Linked DNA regions of Homo sapiens. The protein of the gene in region 1 interacts with the protein of each later gene in a biochemical or structural test. Each region holds a gene or a part of one and is shown on either strand. Other genes may lie near its edges.

Evidence for each region. Proteins that work in one complex are often made in the same cells at the same time.
Region 2: of the proteins of CREB1 (region 1) and RPS6KA5, one has a biochemical effect on the other in vitro, tested with the Homo sapiens proteins (3 studies listed by BioGRID, with this or other methods).

Annotation. Positions count from the first base shown.
Region 1 is NC_000002.12:207,602,883-207,606,563, reverse strand, and holds the end of CREB1 (cyclic AMP-responsive element-binding protein 1), read right to left. Parts: 3' UTR 576-3,681; downstream 1-575.
Region 2 is NC_000014.9:91,053,888-91,057,641, reverse strand, and holds part of RPS6KA5 (ribosomal protein S6 kinase alpha-5), read left to right. Parts: intron 1-3,754. UniProt on the Homo sapiens protein: Serine/threonine-protein kinase that is required for the mitogen or stress-induced phosphorylation of the transcription factors CREB1 and ATF1 and for the regulation of the transcription factors RELA, STAT3 and ETV1/ER81, and that contributes to gene activation by histone phosphorylation and functions in the regulation of inflammatory genes.

The DNA.
Region 1 (3,681 bases):
TACTATCTTAGCACTGACATAAACAGCATGACACCGGACAGTCCTTAGCTCTGTTTTACCTTAAAACTTGAAGTTTTTTTTGAGACGGGAGCCTTGCTCTGTCGCCCAGGCTGGAGTGCAATGGCGCAATCTCGGCTCACTGCAACCTCCGCCTCCTGGGTTCAAGTGATTCTCCTGCCTCAGCCTCCCGAGTAGCTGGGATTACAGGCGCCTGCCACCATGCCTGGCTAATTTTTGTATTTTTTAGTAGAGATGAGGTTTCACCATGTTGGTCAGGCTGGTCTCGAACTCCTGACCTCAGGTGATCTGCCCTCCTCTGCCTCGGCCTCCCAAAGTGATGGGATTACAGGCGTGAGCCACCCGCACCCCGGCCCAACTTGAAGATTTAATTGTTAGCTTTCTGCTCTAAAATCATGTTACACCTTTCCTTCTACAACCAGAGGGGTTAAAAATTTAGTAACACTAGAAAAGATGGCATATTGAAAACTTGTTTCTTTGCTAAGAACAGTTATTTCTGAGGATATTAGAAAGAAAACAGTATTAACAGAGATGAGAAAAGGAAAGCCTTATGAAAGTCTGTGCCACTTCTAATTTTAATTCCAGAAAAAAATGCCTAGACTGTAAAGTTTGACATAAAAATAGTAATCAACATAAGTTAATAAAAATTGCTTAGCAGATACCTAATAATCATTAGGAAACAATATCCAAATATGAAGAAAACCATAATTCAGAAATAACTTTTACTTCTCAGTATCCTGGAGATACAACTTGTGTAGACCTAGTTACCAACCTCTGTATATCTGTAACAGTAAAAAATTTCAAACAGCCAAATGTCCCCAGAAGAGGACTGGTTAAACTGTATCTGTACAATGGCAGCAGTTTATAAACCACTGTTTGTACCTACCTTTTGTGTAAAAAAAGGGAGAGGGAGGAGGAGAGAACATACATTATATTTGTGTATATATGCACAGACTGTCACAAAAAACATAACACAAAAAACTTCTTACAGTTTGCCCTTTTCCATGTTTCTTTTTTTTAGAAGTGTACATATTACATAAAGTAAGTTTGAAAACAATGAGGACATTATAAAGCAAAAACTTATAGGCGAAAATATTATAAGGGCCTAGTACCCAGAATATATAAGGAACTCAGAACCCAACAACAAAATTTCAATGAACAAAGGACCTCAACAGACATTTCTTCAAAGAAGATACGCAGATGGCCAAAGACAACAAAAGATGCTCCACATCATTAGTAATCAGGGAAATGCAAATCAAAACCACAATGAGAGACCACACCCATGAGGATGGCTATAATTTTTAAAATGGCAAAATAAGTGTTGGTGAAGGTGTGGAGAAATTGGAACCCTCATACATCAATGGTGGAAGGTAAAACGGTACAGCTGCTGAGGGAAAGTTTGACAGTTCCTCAAAAAGTTAAATGTGCGATTTCAACATGACCCAGCAACTCCACTCCCAGGCATATACCCCAAATAATTGAAAACACGGACTCAAATACTTGTACACGAACATTCATAACAGCACTATGAACATTAGCCAAACAGTAGAAACAACTCAACTGGATGAATCGATAAACTTGTGGTATATATCTACAATGGCATACTTACTATAAAAAGTATACTTAGCTATAAAAAGGAATGAAGTAGTGATAACATGTTACAATGGATCAACCTCAACAACACATTAAAGCTAGACGAAAGAAGTAATACACAGTGTATGAGTCTCACATGAAATACCCGGATGTAAATCCAAAGAAACAGGAAGCAGATTGGTGGTTGCCAGGGACAAGGGCGGTGGGAGGAGAAAATGGAGAGTAACGGGACTTTACTTTTGGAGTGATGAGAATGTTTTGGAGCTAGATAGAAGTGGTGGTTGTACACCATTGTGGATGTACTACCACTTAATTGTTCACTTAAAAAGTTAATTTATGTGAATTGCATCTTAATTAAAAACAAGGATAACATTCCAACTCCTGGACATTATCCTTCCTTTCCATTTGATGTCAGGCCCGTGTTAGAATTCTCATCCGGTTTGGTCACTGCACTTAAGAAAGATGTGGAGAAATTAGGACGCACAGTTAAGAAGAAGGATAACACTGATTAAGGTAGTGCTTTTCTAGGTTTCCCCTAAACAATTTAACAGATGGATAGTGGCACCACTTACGAGATGGAAAAACCAGCGGAAGGAAGATTTGGGGGAGAAGTTAAGTTTGTCTTGGGCCTGTGTTTTGCAACCTGAGTGTAAAAGACATATGTTAAGTCTTCAGTGGCGAAACACTAAAACTAGAAATGGATCAGAATTTTATCTTTGGATGTGACTTCTCAAGGATGGTCTTGTCACTTCAGTGCCTGGTCAAATGACAAGATGGGCAATCTTTTCCTGAAGGTCCAAGCACCTGAACGTGGCAGGGTGACCCGATTCCGATTTGCTTAGAACAATCCTAGTTCATGCCTATTGTCCCTCATGTAATTAATATCACTCTCAAAATGTCTCATTTTGTGCAATAAATTCTGTAATCGTTGTTGCAGAAAATAAATGAAATTCATTAAGCCTTCCAATACAATGGCAGGTATAGCAGGCTTGAACACATCTTGGCAGTGAAGAAACATACAAATAATGCAGCTGCTTATTTTCAGATGTCTCGTCTCAGAACTTATTTCAGAAGTTAATAGTATAGGAGATAACTTTTTTATTCTTACAGCTTAAGCAAAGATTAACCATATCCCCTCCCCTTTCCTTCCAATTTATATGATCACAGAGTTTTAGAATTGCAAGGGGACCTGAGAAGGTATATAGTCTTATTGTCCTTTCAGTGAACACGTGTTTTATGACATCAGACACAGCTGGTCGTATGTCTCCATTAGTCATCTTGACAGTAACATCTCCAAATCCACAAATAGGCACTGTTCAATCTTATTGAAAAACAGGTTTTGTCCTGAAAATTAGGGATCCAGTAACTGAAGACATGTTGTTGTCTGAATTAGTTTTGCTGCCTTCCAACACAAGCTTGTAATATATTGTAACTTTAAGTCCAATAAAACATGGCTTCACACTACTAGCAAAAAAAACCCAACAAAATATAGAGATCCCATCCCCAAAAAAGAGACTTACAGAGTTTTTAAAAGCATGTTTATGTGACTGCACATAAATGTTTGTGTAAAAAGAGCATTATGACAGTTGATACCACAAAGATTACAGTAAGAAAAAGCACTTTATGACAATATTTCACAAATTCACAAGGATCACTTTAATATACAAAGCAACTGCTACTATTCTGAACACAAAGCAGCTATTATGTACATAGTGTTAATAAAATGCATTGTAACTCAGTACATTTTTTTCTTTACACATAAAGCACAAAAAGATTTAGATAAAAAAATTAAAACAGGGATGTTTCTAGAATGTAGGGAATTTTATTAGAAATGTATTTCCCTCATTATAGTTATTTATTTAGTATTCAACTCCAATAGAAACATCAGAGTTAAAAATCAATACCCTGTTTTGTGCTGACAGTTGTGGGGGAAGTCTTCTTTACCCCAACCCTCAAAAACCAAAAAGCCAAACACCTTTCTAGGAACTTCCCTGATTATTTTGCTTCTAAAAAGTTTCAAGTGATACATCTGGGTTAGAAATAATTCCTTTTGCAGGGAGTGGGGGAGTT
Region 2 (3,754 bases), on another chromosome or scaffold:
GCTGTTATCTTTTTCTGTATATGTCCAGTCTTCTCATGTAGAGTGTAAATTCGCCATAATCTTTGCGGCTGCTCAGCAGCCTGTGTGGATCTCTTCAGTAACAGTTAACACACGGTACTATAATAGTCCATTTACTTGTATTACAGTCTAATACAGATTAGACTGTAAGGTCCTTGAGGGCAGGCAGGCAGGCAGACACCATGTCCTTTGTTTATTTGCAGCCCCTGGCATATAGTAGGTACTTAATATTTGTTGAATGGATTCACTGAATGCATGAGAATCCAGGAGCAAGTCTAGTAAGTTTATTGTATTACCAGTGCCTTGCAGATGTTAGGTGGTTGATAAGTGGATGACAGTGACTGTAAAAGCTGAAGAATGCAGAGTATAGGATTGAACAGATCACTTAAACATACATTTCTTGAATGTATGTCTAAGAAAATGTCCCGCCCTCTAGTAGTAGGGGAGGAGGCCATATAAACCAGTAATTAAGATAATACTGCCTTGGGAGGCTGAGGCGGGTGGATCACGAGGTCAAGAGATGGAGACCATCCTGGACAACCTGGTGAAACCCCATCTCTACTAAAAATACAAAAAATTAGCTGGGCATGGTGGCACGTACCTGTAGTCCCAGCTACTCGGGAGGCTGAGGCAGGAGGTTCTCTTGAACCCAGGAGGCGGAGGTTGCAGTGAGCCGAGATCATGCCATTGCACGCCAGCCTGACAACAGAGCAAGACTCCCATCTCCAAAAAAAAAAAAAAAAAAAAAAAAAAAAAGATAATACTGCCTTAAGTATAACAGTAAAGGGATATTCAAGTATAAAGTTAGCAAAGAATGGGTTAGGACTTTTAGCTTTCAAATAATCAAATCTTCAACAACAATAACAAAAAGGATATTATTGGAAGGAGATTGGGTTATCTTACCCACTTATTTAGTAAGTATTTTATTTCCTCTTACATACTGGGTGCGATTTTAGATGCTTGGATGATAGGACATGTATGGTCTGTCCACTGGAAGAACTGGGTTGCATCAGGAACCATTGGAAGCAGAAACTTAGCATTGTCTGTATTTTGTCCACCTTGAATCTCTGCTTGTCACTATGTGATGGCTTTATTCTTCCCCACTACTGTGCCACTTTTCCCACATGGGAAAGATCATGCTGTTGATAGACTGCAAGTTTTACATCCTACAGCTTCCACTACTGAAAAGACACCGCCGCCTTCTCAGCTTCAGTTATAAAGATCTCAGGGAAGGACTTTTTTGGCCTGCCTTTGGTGAGGTATCCACTTTTGGATCATTCACCTAAAGCCAGGGGATGGGATCATGTTTTTGTAACATGGCAGCAATTTCTGTAAACATGGATAGGGATAAAACTAAACTCTAAGAAGAGGAGGAGTTGCTGGGAAGACATTTACTTAGATGCCTGTTATTAGGAGAGAGAGCCTAACATTGAGGAGAAGGTCGAGGAAGTTTATGTATTGTGGTGTAACAAATTATTCCAAACCTTAGTGGCTTAAACAACATGATTTGTGTGGGTCAGGAATTTAGGAGTGGCTTAGCTTATTGGTTCTTTTTTTTAATCCTAAGTGAATTAACACAGGAAGCTTCTTGATTCTAACTCAGGGACCCTCATGAAGTTGAAGTCAAGGTGTTGGCCAGGACTGCAGTCACCTGAAGACTTGTCTGGGTCTAGTGATTCCCCTTCCGAGATGGCTTACTCACATGTTGGCAGGTTCCTTGCCATGTGGGCCTCTCCATAGCGTGGCTTGAGCATTCTCATGACAGGCAGCTGGTTTCCCCAAAAACAAGTGATCTGAGAGACAGCGAGGTGGAACCTACCATGCCATGTCTTTTGTTGTTGTTTTGTTTTTTTGGAGACGGAATCTATCCAGGCTGGAGTGCAGTGGTGCGATCATGGCTCACTATAATTTCAAACTCCTAGGCTCAAGAGATCCTCCTGCCTCAGCCTCCTGAGTAACTCTGGGACTACGGGCATGCACCACCACACCTGGCTAATTTATTATTTTTTTGTAGAGACAGGATCTCATTATGCTCACACTGGTCTCCAACTCCTGGGCTCAAGAGATCATCCCACCTGGGCCTCCCAAAGTACTGAGATTACGGGTGTGAGCCAACCTGCCCGGCAAAATTAATCCATTTGTAGCATGCATCAGTACTTCATTTTGTTGTTGTTGTTGATAAATTGTGTTCCATTGTATAGATATACCAAGTTTTGTTTATGCATTCACCACTTGTTTGAAATTTGGGTTGTTTCCACCTTTTGGCTATTGTAAATAATGCTGCTTTGCACATTTGTGGACAAGTTTTTGTGTGGACCTATGTTTATTTCTCTTGGGTATGTAACAGCAGTAAAACTGCTGGATCACTTGTTAAAACAAAGCTAAACAAAGTCTGGGTTTACCTTTGTAAGAAACTGCCAAACTGTTGTCCAGAGTGGCTGTATCATTTTATATTCCCATCAGCAATTTATGAGGCCTCCAGTTCCTTCACAGCCTAACCAACATTGTCTGTCTTTTTGCTTATCATAGGGAGTGTGAAGTGATTTTCCATTTCCCTAATGCCTAATGACAAGCATCTTTTCATGTGCTTATTGGCCATTTGTATACCTTTGGAGAAATTTGATTCAGATCCTTTGCCCAGTTTAAAATTGGCTAGTTTGTCTTTTTTTATTATTGAGATATGAGAGTTCTTTATGTATTTTAGGTACATGTCTCTTATCAGGAATATGGATTTGCATATATTTTCCTCCATAAATGAGCTGTCTTTTCACTTTTTTGATGGTTTCCTTAGGAGCACAAAAGTCTTTAATTAAAAAAAAATTTTTTTTTTTAAATAATAGAGATGGGTTCCTGCTATGTTGCCCAGGCTGGTCTCGAACTCCTGGGCTTAAGTGATTCTCCCTCCTCGGCCTCCCAAAGTGTTGGGATTGTAGGTGTGAGCCACTGTGCCTGGCCTAAAAGTCTTTAATTTTTTTTTTTTTTTTTTCTGAGACAGAGTCTTGCTGTGTTGCCCAGGTGGAATGCAGTGGCATGATCTTGCCTCACTGCAACCTCTGCCTCCTGGGTTCCAGCAATTCTCATGCTTCAGCCCCCTGAGTAGCTAGGATTACAGGCGAGTGCCACCATGCCTGGCTAATTTTTGTATTTTCAATAGAGACGAGGTTTCACCATGTTGGCCAGGCTGATCTTGAACTCCTGTCCTCAAGGGATCCACCTGCCTCAGCCTCCCAAAGTGTTGGGATTACAGGTGTGAGCCACCGCTCCTGGCCCTAAAAGTCTTTAATGTTGATGAAACCTTTTTTTTTTCTTTTTCATTTTATTCTTGTGTCTAAGAAATCATTGACTAATTCAAGATTATGAAGATTGATGTCTCTGTTTTCTTCTAAGAGTTTATGGCTTTAGCTGTTACATTTAGATCATTGATCCATTTTAAGGTAATTGCTGGATATCATGTGAGGTAGTGATTCAGACTCATTCTTCTGCATGTAAATATCCAATTGTTCCAGCACCATTAGCTGAAAAGACTATTTTTTTCTCCATTTTAATGTCTTGGCACCCTTATTGAAAATCAGTTGACTATAGATGTATGGGTTTATTTATTTTATACTCTCAGTTCTCTTCCAGTGATCTATATGTCTCTCCTTATAGCAGTACCATGCTGTCTTGACTACTACAGTTTTTTAGTAAGTTTTGAAATTGAGAAGTGTGAGTCTTATTCTTCAACATTGTTTTGGTT